Linked DNA regions of Homo sapiens. The protein of the gene in region 1 purifies or fractionates together with the protein of each later gene. This does not show direct contact. Each region holds a gene or a part of one and is shown in the gene's direction. Other genes may lie near its edges.

What was found. Proteins that work in one complex are often made in the same cells at the same time.
Region 2: the proteins of MCOLN2 (region 1) and GOLIM4 purify together in Homo sapiens (affinity purification with mass spectrometry; one large-scale study listed by BioGRID and IntAct). This does not show direct contact.
Region 3: the proteins of MCOLN2 (region 1) and RHBDD1 purify together in Homo sapiens (affinity purification with mass spectrometry; one large-scale study listed by BioGRID and IntAct). This does not show direct contact.
Region 4: the proteins of MCOLN2 (region 1) and MTCL3 purify together in Homo sapiens (affinity purification with mass spectrometry; one large-scale study listed by BioGRID and IntAct). This does not show direct contact.

The regions. Positions count from the first base shown.
Region 1 is NC_000001.11:84,934,614-84,938,113, reverse strand, and holds part of MCOLN2 (mucolipin-2), read left to right. Parts: intron 1-31; coding exon 32-133; intron 134-236; coding exon 237-359; coding exon of another isoform or gene 360-410; exon of another isoform or gene 411-520; coding exon of another isoform or gene 521-547; exon of another isoform or gene 548-1,748; intron 1,749-3,500. UniProt on the Homo sapiens protein: Nonselective cation channel probably playing a role in the regulation of membrane trafficking events. Acts as a Ca(2+)-permeable cation channel with inwardly rectifying activity.
Region 2 is NC_000003.12:168,093,125-168,097,277, reverse strand, and holds the start of GOLIM4 (Golgi integral membrane protein 4), read left to right. Parts: upstream 1-1,353; 5' UTR 1,354-1,992; coding exon 1,993-2,179; intron 2,180-2,451; exon of another isoform or gene 2,452-2,566; intron 2,567-4,153. UniProt on the Homo sapiens protein: Plays a role in endosome to Golgi protein trafficking; mediates protein transport along the late endosome-bypass pathway from the early endosome to the Golgi.
Region 3 is NC_000002.12:226,860,054-226,863,553, forward strand, and holds part of RHBDD1 (rhomboid-related protein 4), read left to right. Parts: intron 1-3,500. UniProt on the Homo sapiens protein: Intramembrane-cleaving serine protease that cleaves single transmembrane or multi-pass membrane proteins in the hydrophobic plane of the membrane, luminal loops and juxtamembrane regions.
Region 4 is NC_000006.12:127,481,336-127,484,835, reverse strand, and holds part of MTCL3 (microtubule cross-linking factor 3 precursor), read left to right. Parts: intron 1-1,851; coding exon 1,852-1,923; intron 1,924-3,500.

The DNA.
Region 1 (3,500 bases):
ATTTCTCTCTTTCTTTTTTTTCATTCCTTAGAATCTCACAAACTATGATCTCTGCAGCATTTTTCTTGGAACCTCTACGCTCTTGGTTTGGGTTGGAGTCATCAGATACCTGGGTTATTTCCAGGCATATAATGTAAGGATGCGGCACCGGGTAGTGCCACTGCAGTTGAGACTCATTTATTCTTTGGGTTCTAATAGCTACTTTTTCATTTCACCCATTCTGTTCTTTTTTTCAGGTGCTGATTTTAACAATGCAGGCCTCACTGCCAAAAGTTCTTCGGTTTTGTGCTTGTGCTGGTATGATTTATCTGGGTTACACATTCTGTGGCTGGATTGTCTTAGGACCATACCATGACAAGGTGTGTAGCTCACATTCTTCCTTCTGCAGATGGGGCACGTGGGACCCTTGAACGTGGGTTTCTAGCACTTACTTGCTTCCTGGTCTTCTCTAGCATGTACCCTTGACATCAGTAATCACATATCTTTGTATCAGTTTTCTTTTTCTTTTTTTCCTTTTCAGGATATAGAAGTGACTACAGGATATTGAAACAAGAACTGTACAATACTAGAAAGCATGTATTATAGTTGTCTGGGACTGGCTTAAGGGGTCACATGGTTACCCGGTGATCATCAAATGGGAAATGTTTGGACGTGAGATCACTATATTAAAAATGAAAATTAAGTGAGGAAAATTATTATAAAAAATTTCCAATTTAAAGTATTATGTTTTTCATCCAAGTTAATTGAGAAGAATGAAGATGGGCAGAGACTGCCTAAAACGACCATAGTAGGTTTACGATAGAAATGGTGACACGTCTTGTCTCTGCAGACGGTTTTGATTACAGCATCATCTTTCTGCCTTATTAAAGATCAGTATCTGAATTCTAAACTATTACCAAACTTCAGTTAGCATTATAATCTCAGGGACATCAAAGTTGTGCTAAGATGTTCTTGTTATAAAATGATACATTTGATTGGTAGATGCATCAGGAAATGAAACTAGGTAAGCCTTGGTTTTAACCCAAAAAAGTAAAAGGAGTTATTTTATCTTATGGCTTTTCCTCCATTTGGGCCTGTGGCAGTTGGAACAACAGAAACAACAAAAATAGCAGCAGCTAACACTTACTGCTTGTGTGTTAGACACTCTGCTGGGCATTTCGGTGTTCTTTCTTATTTACTCCCCACAACAACCCAGGGTACTGTTAGCCTCACTTAGGTGCTCTGCAAGGAGAAAAGAGGTTAAAAATGGTAAGTATTCCTTCCAAGTTTGTATACCAGTTCAGCCTTAAGTTTTGACCTTGTTAGTTGCATTAACCAAATCTGTGATCAAATCTGGTTTACAAACTGTTATACATGAATCTTAAACCTCCGTGCTGTCCTACCAGAATAATGTCGAGTAACCTGGAACACTCAGACTTTCTTCTTTTTAGGTGTCACATTTAATATGTCTAGAGAGAATTACTGTTTTTCCTATTTGAGATATTATATAATTAACAAAGTGACAACCTCTGGGTTGGTAGTAAATCTTGATAATATTGCTCTTCATACTCCATGTCACTGCTTTAAAGGTGACTCATGAGAAAAAATTATTCTTTGATATGATCTCTCTGATTTGGAGAACTTACTGTCTTAGAGCCTGGAAAAATGTATTTTTCTTCCTTGCTTGCCTCATGCTCTGAAAGCTTTTCCACCTCTTTGTCACTAGAGGGCAGTGTTGCACTGTGTGGAATAAATACCGTTCCTGAGGATTCGGCTTTAATTCACTGACTCCAAGGTCTGTGGACAAGTGGTCCCATCTCCTTTGCACCCCATCCCCGTCTCCCCTACCTCATCATTATTCTGGAAGGTGCTCAGATAAGATTGCTAGAATTTTACTAGATGGCTACCATTCTCAAGTGCTGTCTGTTAGGCATGGTGCCCAAGATTCTTCATCTCCCTTGCTGTGTTAACCCTTCCCTCCCCTTCTCTGTGAAGAAATCTGATTGTCCTGTTACAGAGAATAGGCACCTTAATATATTAAATAATATTCCTGAGATTACCCAGCTAGAAAGTGGCAGAGATGGGATTCAAACCCAGGTCGGCCTGACTCCAGTACCTGTGCTTTGACCCATACCCTGTAGAGCTTTTCTTGGTATTATCTAAAACAGATCATTGCAAGAGAGCATTTAGCCTGACAAGAAACAGTCTTGTACTTGGAGATCAACTGTGAGAGGACAGCCATGTAATCGGCTTCATTCTTTCAATGGTGTCAAGGTCACCTCATGGAAAATGAGGTTATTTGTTTTGTGAGCCTGACTGCATTTCCATATGTTCAATTTGTCCTTTCAAAGGATCCAGGTGAAACTGGGATGCTCTGAGCCAGCACTGTCCAAGAAAAATACAGTTTGGGCTACAATTGAGAGCCTTGCCTATACTGTAAAATTTTCTAGTAGCTACATGAAGAAATAAAAAAACAGATGAAATTATTTTTAATTATATATTTTAAGCCTAATATACCCAAAATATTATTTCAGCATGTATTCAGTATAAAATATTGAAATATTTTACATTCCTCCATACTAGTCTTTTTGATCTGGTGGATATTTTATCCACATAGCACGTCTCAATTTGGACTAGCTATCTATTGGATGCTGGCTATTCACACATTCCTGGTGACTACCACTATGGACATTGCAGCTCTAGACTTATGTCTTTCACTTAATGTTAGCTTTCCTTTATACCCCTGGAGGAGGGGAGGGATAAGGGATGTCTGTAGGGTTGCCTGCAGGTCTGTTTATGGCATCTCTCACCAGGCTGATATATTGGGGAAATACACAGCTGAGTTAATTCACTGAATGTACAAGTCAGTTGGGGGAGAGAACGTCAGTCTGGTTTTGGAACTTTGTGCTTTTCTTCACCATATTGCTGCCTCTTTGAATCTGAAGTTAGAATATTTTATTGCCCCTTGCATCCTTTCCCCCAAATTAATCCAAGCTGTCAGCATGTTCAGGTTCTGCCAGTATCTGAATCAGAGGACTTTCAGGTTACCTGAAGCCTTGAAAAGCTAGGCATTCCAAGCGGGCATTTTTGTGGGATTTTTAGAATCACAGCAACCTTGATTGTGAAAGCTAATTCTTTCTTTAAAACAAAACAACTAAAAAGGAGACATTAGGAAAACCGTTTGACTGATAGCTGGGGTCCCATAACACTTCAGCTTCCTATCTTCCTGTTAGGCATCTGATTTCAGGGGCTCAATGGAAAGGGAGTCAAGATGCAAAAGGCTTCCTGCTGATGTGTATTCCCAGCACTAATGGACTTTGGCACAGTGCCCTTTCAAAATGCCTGGGCACAGAGGGTGAGAGACTGTTGATGTTCTTCCAGACCTCATCTTGAATTATTAAACATTACTCTAATGCGGCTTTTACATTTCCAGAGGACTTTTTTTCCTGTGAGGAATAAATCATAGCCTTGCATTGTCCCCATTTTACAAATGAGAAGACCAAGACTTGAAAAGTTGTTGG
Region 2 (4,153 bases), on another chromosome or scaffold:
GAAAGCATTTTGAATAATTTAACGCAAGTTATTATTTATTAAGGAAAAGCACATGCAAGACACACTTTATTTTTACAGTGGTATAAATGCCACAGGGTAGCATCGTTATAAATTCAGTTTATTTTAGGGCTTTAGCAACCTATAATTTCAGAGTCCACCTAAAAAAACTTTTGCACCAGGAACTGTCTTTCTGTTGCATTTAGCTAAAGAGATTTACCCCCATTTTGAGCACTCAGGCCCATTAGCAATGGTAACGACTAAAGTCCAGTTAGAATATAAAAATTATGCAGTGTATCATAAATTACACCACACTATACAGACAGATAAAATTTACTTTTCTTAGAATTCAGGTCAACAGCAGAAACAAAAATTATCATTTGTGCATAACCTTAATTATTCCCCTCAAGTACACAGAAAAAATAAATGCAGTATACATTTCTTCGAAGAGGTTTGTGGTTACTACCTTTCCTGTGCTGTACTAGTTTTTACATAGGGAACCTTTGTTGCCCTTTAAAATGTAATTTAGAAATGTAACTGATGTGTTTTGCCACCAATAAAACAAATACATATGACAAAATGAATGGATACTCATTTCAGTCTGTACGATTTGTTTTTAAATTATTCTATTTGCAGCTAGAGGAGAAATGTGAGACCATTTCTTTCCTCTCTGCCAATGGCAAGCCGATTTCCCCAGCCCACGTGGACAATTGAACATTAAGTCTAGCGTGCTTCCAGTCTCCCGACTCCTGCCGGGCCATCTGTGGGCACACACACATCTAGGCTAGTACACTGGATGGGGTAAGGCAGTCGACATGGCATCTCTGGTTTGACTACCGGGATTGTGCTATGTAGCTATCCCATGTGTCTGCCGCATCAGTTTATTGGACAGGGAAAGAAAGTGTACTCAGCAGAGTGCACACAGTTACTGCCATCCATTCTTTCGTTCATACACACATTTTACTCCGCTCTCCACGTGCGTTCCGAACGAGAACTGGAACACACACACACACACACACACACACACACACGTGTTCACCGAACCTCACCCAGACTCAGGCCCGGACAAGTCCCCCGCCCACCCAAAGCTCCCCGCCCTTCGCCCTTCCGCCTGCCTCTTCCCACCCTCTCCGACTCCACGTGGGCGCACCCCGGCGCCAGGCGGCCGCGCTGCCCACAGAGCCCCTAGCCGGCCCCGGCACTGGGAGGGAAGGTGCGGCCCTGGGGTCGGACGGACAAAGCCGGCATCCAATCGAGCCCGGCACTGCCTCCCCGAAGGGAGGGAGCGTCTGCTCGGACGGGCCCAATGAGCAAGGAGGCCGAGTGGGACTTCCTCCCGGAATCCCGTTGGCCAGAATAGCCGGGCCGTGGGTGACACGTAAGTTGGGCAGGAGGTGGCGGGGCGGCAGAGGCACCAGCCGACCCGTCAGTGACACCGCTGTGCCGTCCCCAAAACCAGCCGAGACAGCTGGCCCCCACCCTTCCACCCATTGGGCAGGCCGCACGGGGGCGCGGCCCGGAGTCCTGGTCCCTTTGTTGGGCGCGCACCCCCTCCCTTAGGTGGCAACAAAGTCGTGCAGTGGGAGCCGCCGCGATAGGGCGGGGAGTGGCCAGGGCGGGACTCCAAGAACTGCCCGGGGGCAGCGGGGCCAAAAAGTGGGAAGAAGGAAAAAAGGCAGGAGGCATCTGGGGACAGGCGCGAGGGCAGCCGGCTCTGAAGTATGCGGAGGGCCTCCTCCCGGCCCCGGGCATTCGCGGAGAACGAGCCTCGCAGAAGTTTGGCTGCAGCTGCCCGGGCGGCGTCGATGGCTGCGCGCCCCGCGCCGCGCGGGGGCTGAGCGGGCGCCACTTCCCCTCCGGGCCGGCTTTTGTGTCTGGCATCTCCTCCTCATGCTGCGTCTGGCCACCTACTGCGGCGGCCGCTGCTGAGACGCTCGCTCGGACCAAGGGGAGGAGACGGCGGGGGCGGCCGCGGCTTTGGGTCCAGGCGGGACTATGGGAAACGGGATGTGCTCCCGAAAGCAGAAGCGGATTTTCCAGACGCTGCTGCTGCTGACCGTCGTGTTCGGCTTTCTCTACGGCGCGATGCTCTACTACGAGCTGCAGACGCAGCTGCGGAAAGCCGAGGCGGTGGCGCTCAAGTACCAGCAGCACCAGGAGTCCCTCTCCGCCCAGTTACAAGGTACGGCTAACGGGACGCGCGCAGCCGGTGGCCAACTTTGCCCCGCGCCTCCACCCGGGCAGGAAAAGTGGCTTTGGTGAGCTATTGGCACTGTGGTTGCCACCTCTGACCTTCAGGGACGTCAGAGGTGAGCGTTTCAGGACTGCCGGCACCAGAGTGTCAGGGGAGATGACATTCTCATCCTCCCGCTTCTTCCTCCCAGCGGTTAGGTTTAGAACTTCGTAGCACCAGCCCATCGTCCCGCTGGGCGTTTGGTGGGCGGGTGCACAGATAGTCCTTTACCCGAGCTCTTGTCAAAGGCCCAGCTGCAATCGGGGCAGGGAAACTGGTAGCCCTCCGCCGCTTCTGCCAGCCCTGCTCTGAGGAGCATTGTTCCGTGGATTCTAGGTATTTGCTTTCTTGTTGACTTTGTCAGTTGCTTAAAAAATGAAGAGTTTGGCAGAGATTTCTCAAACTGTGCTGTTTTTCAAGGGAAAATTAAGCCATGACCCAGCAGCTTAATTAAAGTCATGGCCCAGTCGAATGGAAGGAACCTAGATCTGGACCTGCTAGTTTCTTATTTCTTATTCTTTTAATTTAATAGGATGTCTTTAGAGATGCTGGATGTGTGGGAAAAGTCCACACTACATACCATTCACCATCCTGCAGTAGTTTATTTCTTTAAAAACAGGTTTACTTGTCTTCCTAAGTAGCTTTTACTTCATCACAGAGATGCATGTATGTTACAGTTAGCTTCGGGAAGCCAAAGAGGAGAAACACAGGTTTTCACTTTGCCATGCACAGCAAACCCAACTTGAGCAAGACCTGTAGAAGAACTTAAAGTTTCTATCCTATTTTAGAATCTAATTTAATGTAATTTTCACAAACATAATTTACTTTAAATGTAAATTCAGAATTTGAATTTGAATTTACTTTTAACGTAAATTCAAAGTCAGCACCATGTCCTCTTGTTAAGGACGTATCCTATACATATTTTTTTTGCAAGCTTTTACTTGTGGTTAGTTTTCAATACTTATGCAGCTTTCTCCCCAACCAAAAAATAATAATAAATAGCTGTAAGTGGTGAAATGTTGGCAGACTTTGCTGATGATGCAAATATAGCTTGTTTAATATTGCTAGGTAGATAGATGCAAGCTAGAGGGATGTTTCTGTGTATGTGTGTGCAGATATGAAACAGATGCCTCTTCTTTGCTTCAGTTATTTTGAGTGTTTTCTAGTAAAAAATTTAAGATGAGAGAAAATGATACACATCCGATTGTTTGGACTTAACTTGCTCTTCCCAACTTAGAAGAAAGAAAAGTATTTTTAGCTTACTGACGCTGCATAGCCACAGGCAATGAAAATATATGGCTCGGCTTGGTTCAAAAGTAAAACCCGTTTTGATACGCTCTTAGGTTCACAAAATTTTCTTTAAACTCATTGAAATTTACCCATGAGTTATTGTTGGTATGAGAATATGGATATTTGTTTACTTATTTATTTACAAGGTATCAGTTGCTTCCCTGTGAAGTTCCATGGAGTCAGACCAAGGGAAAAATTTACCGTCTAATAGTATAACAGGACTAGATTTTCATAAACATGGCTGGAAGGGGCATGTATGGTGGATTATATGAGGTTGTGTGTGCCTTGGTCTCTTAGGAGTCCCATGAGGGCAAAGGCTGTCATTTTCACCATTACCTCCTCAGCACCACACTGTGCCTGACACTCATTAGGGGAATCAATGCATGTTTATTCAAACAACAAACAAAAATTATTCTGAACTGTGGCGAGTAAGTTCATCCCAGGCACTTTTGTCTTTCTGAGACTTTGCTTCTGTGTCTTTGCTTTTTGAAAGCCAAATAAAACAAGAAAATATTTTGTTCAAGTAGCTCCTTTGCCTCAACGGCCTATGATGGACGATGGATATTGTTGACTGAGGCCCTAATTTCTGAATAATGGCCTTTATTTGCAGTATTTCATTTTGAAATTTTAGAA
Region 3 (3,500 bases), on another chromosome or scaffold:
ATTTGGGGGTAGCAGGGTGATAAGGTTAAGGTCAAAAGACATGTCAAGGATCTTTCTATGTCTTTGGCTTGAACAACTGGATAGATGGAAATCCCATGTCTTGAGGTGGGGTGCATGAGAGGAGGAGCTGATTTGGAAGGGACAGTCCAGTGTTCAGCTTGGGGCATGTTGAGTCTGGTGGGGAGGGTGTGTTTGTAAGGTAAGGGAGCACAGGGACTGGCCTTTCTTGAACTCTGGTAACTGGCTTGTGGTCTGGATACAAGTTAGAATAATACATAAACCATTTCCAAAACCCAACAGATTTTACAGGTTTTCAGTTCACAGATAAGTTGCTATAATTGATGTTGCCTCTGTGGTCTTTCAGATAGCACAGCACTCTAAAAATTTCTATGTATTTGATGGGCATGACATTAACAATATTCATTTTATAGTCAGTGCTCACTTATTGTGATCTGTCTTCCTTGGTGTTCCTAGAGCCGTGCCTCCCTGGCCCACAGCGTCAGGTTACAGATTTGATCTTTACATGGATCAGTTGGATTTTCTAAGTTGTCTTGTGACAGGTTGCATCCCTCACCTTGGATGGCTGACTTGGTAACTGATTAGGAAGGAAACTGCCCTAGAGTTGTTATGAACTAGGACTGATTGGTCTTTGCTACTACTTAAGACTCAAAACGTATGTTCTACCTACACTGGGACTCTAATGGCCTTTGTTTACAAAGGTGGAGCCCAAAAGACGGGCACTTCTCACATTGGCTATGGTTATATCTCCTTTCGCATTAAGTATACATTTACTGAGAAGCCAAGCCACACAATTTTACTTCTCTTTTGATTTCCTGTGGACAATATTTTTATTTCCTTCAACAAATAGAAGTAGGCCATTTAGAGGCTGGGAATATAAGTGTTTTGTTATTTGCTGTACCTCCAGTGCCTGGCACAGGGACTGGCATGCATATGGCACTTGATACATGTTTATTAAATACATGAGTGAAAGAAGGAATGGCTGAATCATCATTCTGTGAGAAAGGATAATTCAGTTTTCAGAAACCAAGACATCAGGCAAACTATATCTTCTTCTAAGATTACGTCCCTGAAACCTGAGAAATCAAAGCTGAAAAATAGAAATTTGGGCATCATCCTGATAAAAAGAATTACAAAAATCATTAAAGTGGAAGCCCTTGAGTGTGTGCAGGAGAGAGTAGGGATAGAGGAGAAGTGAACAGCAGAGAAACGGGTTGGAAGGAGGAGTGAAGCCTCAGGAGAGCAAGGTGTCCCACAGAAGCAGGAGCAGTCAACAGTGGAGAGCTGGGAGGTGCGAAGGGATGCAGACAGAAAGACACCTTTTCATCCAGCCAGAAGTAACTCAGGAAAGTGCAATCAGAGCCTGGGACACAGTGTGAAGTAAGACTGGGAATTCTGTCCTTTTATCTATATTCTTCATTACTAATGATTGTAATTGAGGGGCAAGTTTTTCTTGAGCAAAGATGTAGTTAGTTTTGATTTTCTGCTACATAAAGCCCAGCATCATAAGACACTGTTGGCAATGATATTGAAGGGTTTATTTTGTGATTTCTTGTAAGCTGATTATTTACTGATCAATGATCAAGGCCAGTTTTTCCATTGTTCCTGTTAAAGGTAATAATGTTTGATATATGTAACATAAATATTTCTGTGTGTGTGTGTGGGCACACGTGTGCACACATATTGATAAATTTAGGAGAATTACAAAAAAGTTACGGTAGGTAAAGAGTTGAAAGTTGACTTGAGTTCTAATGTGAAAAATATAGGCCATTTATCCAAAGTTATGTGGGAGCATTTCAGTTTAAATTTCATTAAATTCTCTAGTTCATAAGAATGCTACAGAGCTACAATAATAACAATATAGAAACGGGTTGTGCTAATACATGGGGTTTTGCCAATAATGTGTGTGTGCATGCACGTGTATGTATATGGCTAATTTTGTGTGTGTATGCATACACATATATATATACACATGCATAATTTTTTTCTGAACATTGTTTTGGTGTGATGTTGATAATAAGAATCCATATGGGGGCATAGGAGTACATTTGAGTCTTTTTAGGATGTTACCATTTGCAAAGGAATTAATTCTCACATAAGTAAGTTTACTTTATAGAAATGAAAGTAGTAGCTACTGTTTATTCTGCATCTCTTTTGTTCCAAGCATGTCACAGTAATCCTGGGAAGGAGGTTTTATGTTTCTTAAAGGGAGGAAATTGAAGTTCAGAAAGTTTAAATGATTTGCCCCAGGTCACAGAGCTAGAAGATAGGAGAATCCTGCCTTTTTTTTTTTTTTTTTTAACTCTAAAACTCATGCATTGTCCAGTGTGCAGTCCAAGTTAGAATCCTTAGGGTATTAGAGTGAGTTACCTGTTTGGTTGGGGGCCAATTAATCTCCACAGAGAAAGCAGAAACCATTAGATGAGAACTTTTTCAACATTTTGCCCCTAATAGCTACACCTGATTTTTCTTTTCTTTCTGTTAAGAGGAAAAGACTCTTCCCTCCAAGCACTTGATCCTTTTTATTTATCTCTTGCATCTTTAGTCTGTGTCTCTGCCTGCATCTCTTCCCTTACTAGCTTCTTCTCATGAGCATGAAACAGTCCCTCCCTGGCTTAGTCCGTTTAGGGTTGCTATAAATACCTGAGTCTGAGTAATTTATAAAGAAAAGAGGTCTATTTAGCTCACAGTTCTACTGGCTGTAAAGTTCAAGATTGAGCATCTGGTGGGGGCCTCAGGCCATTTCCATTTGCGGTGAAAGGTGAAGGGGAGCTAGCATGTGCAGAGATCATGTGATGAGAGAGGAAGCAAGGGAGTGGGGAGGTGCCAGTCTCTTTTAACAACCAGCACTGGCAGGAACTAATAAGAGTGAGAACTCACTCATCCCCTGACCCCAGGGAGGGCATTCATCTTTTCATGAGGGATATTCCCCCATGACCCAAACACCTCCCATTAGGCTCTACTTCCAATACTGGGGATCGGATTTCAACATGAGGCCGGGCCTAGTGGCTCATGCCTGTAATCCCAGCACTTTGGGAGGCTGAGGCAGACGGATCACCTGAGGTCAGGAGTTTGAGACCAGCCTGACCAACACGGTGACACCTAGTCTCTACTAAAAATAGCCAGGCATGGTGACACATGCCTGTAATCCCAGCTACTCAGGAGGCTGAGGCATAAGAATCATTTGCACCCAGGAGGTGGAGGTGGCAGTGAGCCAAGATCATGCCATTGCACTCCAGCCTGGGCTACAGAGTGAGATTCTGGCTCTAAATAAATAAATACATTCATTCATTCATTCAACATGAGGTTTTGGAGGGACAAACACCTAAACCACAGCACTCGCGAAAGGCAATACCTTCTGTATTAGTTAGTAGTTGTTGCATAACAAACCACTCCAAAGCTCAGTGAAGTAAACCAAGTACCATTTATTTAGCTCACTGTTTTGTGGGTCAGCAAATTAGGCTGGGCTCAGCGAGACTCAC
Region 4 (3,500 bases), on another chromosome or scaffold:
AGTGTTTAAAAATTAGCTGAGATAATGTATGTGAAGGGGTTGACATGAATTAGGGCTCAATGACAGTTAATATTGTTCTTGTATTATCATTGCTTTCATAACACTGTGTTGAATTCCAGACTGAACAGATCATGCCAAGTAAGCTGAGAACCCCCAAAAGAGCAAAGATCACATTGGTTTCATTATTATTGTGTCACAGGTATGTTATGAAGTGCATTGGTAGTCACTAAATAAACACATAATTGAGTGAATTCAAATACAAGCATTCAATAAGTATTTAGTGAAACAAATTCAACGCTTCTTGTAGGCAGCCCCTACCTAGAATGTTCCAGGTTTCTTAGTTTAGCTCACTTTATTCTTGGTATTCTTGGGACTGTTTTGTTGATTACTTCCTAAATTACTTTTTGGTTATGGTGAGTCAGTCCCCAAGCTTTCCTTTCTAAGAAGATTATACAAGCAACAGAAAGAACTTCTTCCTGTAAAGAACTAGAAATGAATAACCACGTGGGCTATTCATTTGTCTGTGTAGTTTCAGTTTCATACTGAATGAAAGCAGTTGCACCAAAGTATTCCCCTGCCTTCTGTGCTTGAACGTATGCCTTTACTTAACAGTGGATATGGGTTAGAAATTAACATGTGAAGAATTTAATTTTCATTTCTTTGCGAATTTATGAAGACTCCTGTTTGGAAAAGGCTTCCCTATTTTTACTGTCAGTCTATACCCCTGTCCTTCTCTTTGACCTCAGAACCTCGATTTGGTATTCATATATCATTAGTTCAGCAAGTATTTTTTTCACCACCTGCCATGTGGCAAGCACTATTTTTATGGTGGTGATGCCACACTAAATCAAAACCCCTGCTTCACAGAACCTAAAGCATAGCATTTATCAATTTGCACTGTAATTGTTTGCTTCTCTGTCTCCTCCCCTGCTAAGTTTCAGCTTCCTGATGGTAGATGCAGTATCTAATCAAACTTTGAGTCTCCCCCTCAATGTGTAGTATATGGTAGACAGTCATACATACGGATAATTATTGTTTACATACAGAGACCCTTCTTCTTATATTGGTGTGAGAAATGGAACTGAGCACCAGAGATCATATTACGCTTGTCCTTGAAACAGTTTGGCACTAGCTGTGTATTCTTTGACTTCCAAAGTGTTAGTTTGAATTTTAATTAGGATCAGCCAGTAAAATGTGGGAGATTTTACATAAGAATCCAGATTCCCAGCTTCTCTTGTAAAAGCCCACATTCCTGTATCACACAATGAGCTGAAGCTGTGGCTGGTCCACCTGTTTCTTGAGATGGGGCATGCCTTCTCCATTTCACTACAACCCCTACCATGCCCTATCATTTTGCACGTGTCGAGGAGGAGCAAGGGGGTGATGTGTGGTGAGGGGAGAATGAAGTGCTTCCGATTCTACATAAATTCACTGAAAGTGTGTGTTCATAAGCTTATAGCAACCTAACTCCCAACATTGGAAATAATAACTTACTTTTTTTCCTTCAGTGATGTGGAATGCTAACAAGCATTTGTTTACATTTGAACTATATATCATATTGAGTCAACAATCAATTTTGTCTGTTGTTTTTCTGCATTTTCACAGTAGGTTTCCTGTATTTCTCAAATTAAATAATTGCCAGCTACATTCTACTGTGATGTGTATCCTAGTCCAAAGTAAAAATATATCTAAATCTATCTGGTTTAGGATTTTTTTTCCTCCTTTTATGATTATTGAACTAACTCTTTTTATTTGTCTTGGTTTTGTCGTTTGAGACTAGAATACTTAAAAACATAAAATTGAATTAAAATTATAGTTTATCCAACTAAATATATTCATGCTTTGTTTCAGTTATCCTTAAAAAGAAGAGGAAGCAAAGATTTGCCAAAATCTGAAAAAAAGGCTCAACAGACTCCCACAGAGGTATGTGGAAATAAAATTTCAACTAGTACACCAAGTACCTCTAAGTGTATATAATCACAAACTACATTTATAAATAGATATAATGGCCAGATAAACTTATGCAAAACAAAGTCAAATTTGCATATCAATTATGTAGCTGTAGATACAGGTAGTATAAATCAGAATATTTACTTATAAAGCCAACCATAACATCCCTATTATAATTGCTTTACATTGTAAGCACACAGAAAAATGTCATTCGTATTTTATACGCTGCTATATTTGAGAACTATACTCATGATGCTAATCTTGTCCTTTTATAATTAATAAGGTCAATAGAAAGGCTGTTCCTATAGTGTCAGGAGAAAGTAAAGAAAGGAATGTTGCAGAGGGAAGTCAGAAAGGAGAGAAAGGCTCATTATATCTTTAGAGAGCCCTGGAATGAAGTAATTCTCCATACCAGTGATTGGAGAAGCAAAAGAAAGGAGACAAAAGAATAAAAATGAAAGTTGAAAGATGTACTCAACATGGGTTTGTTAAAAACCTTAGAAGCACAGCCACAGTAAAGACTAGCTTTGCTTTCAAGGTAAAAAGAGGTGCCAATGGTTGTAATGAAGAAGATTTTAAAATGGAAGAGGAAACATTTGGGATAAAAATGACACTATTGTTAAGGAAGGGGATCCCAATCCAGACCCCAAGAGAGGGTTCTCGGATCTCGTGCAAGAAAAAATTCAGGGCGAGCCCATAGAGTAAAGTGAAAGCAAGTTTATTAGGAAAGTAAAGGAATAAAAGAATGGCTACTCCATAAGCAGAGCAGCCCTGAGGGCTGCTGGTTACCCATTTTATGGTTATTTCTTGATATGCTAAACAAGGGGTGGATTATTCATGCCTCCCCTTTTTAGACCATATAGAGTAACTTCCTGATGTTGTCATGGCATTTGTAAACTGTCATGGCACTGGTGGGATTGTAGCAGTGAAGACGACCAGAGGTCATTCCCGGTTTTGGTGAGTTTTAGCTGGCTTTTTTACTGGAATGCGTTTCATCAGCAAGGTCTTTATGACCTGTATCTTGTGCCAACCTCTTATCTCATCCTGTGACTCAGAATCCTTAACCATCTGGGAATGCAGCCCAGTGGGTTTCAGCCTCATTTTACCCAGCTCCTATTCAAGATGTAGTTGTTCTGGGTCACACGCCTCTGACATTATAACTCTCCAAAAGCACTTGGCTAGATATTAACCTTTAAACTATGTCAGTTGGAATCTATGGTACTGTAGTATACTTTTGTGATTACAAGGTTTTTTTCACATTAGATAGATAATTTAACTAAAGTGATTTTAAATATTCAAAATTTGAAAAAGTTGATCTCAGACATTTTTTAAAGCATAACATATTAACTATATATTATTTTCCTTTTTCCTCTCTGTACCTGCTCTGTTCCTGCTCTGTTTTCTCCTGGTACTTGCACCAGAACATGTATGGACCTCAGCATTTTTAGAATCCCAGAGAGTCTCACAGCCAAGACCATGATATCATTTTTTGTACCTTTCTCTCTGTTCCCTTAGTAAGTCCAAATATACTCTGTCACTACAGCTTTTCC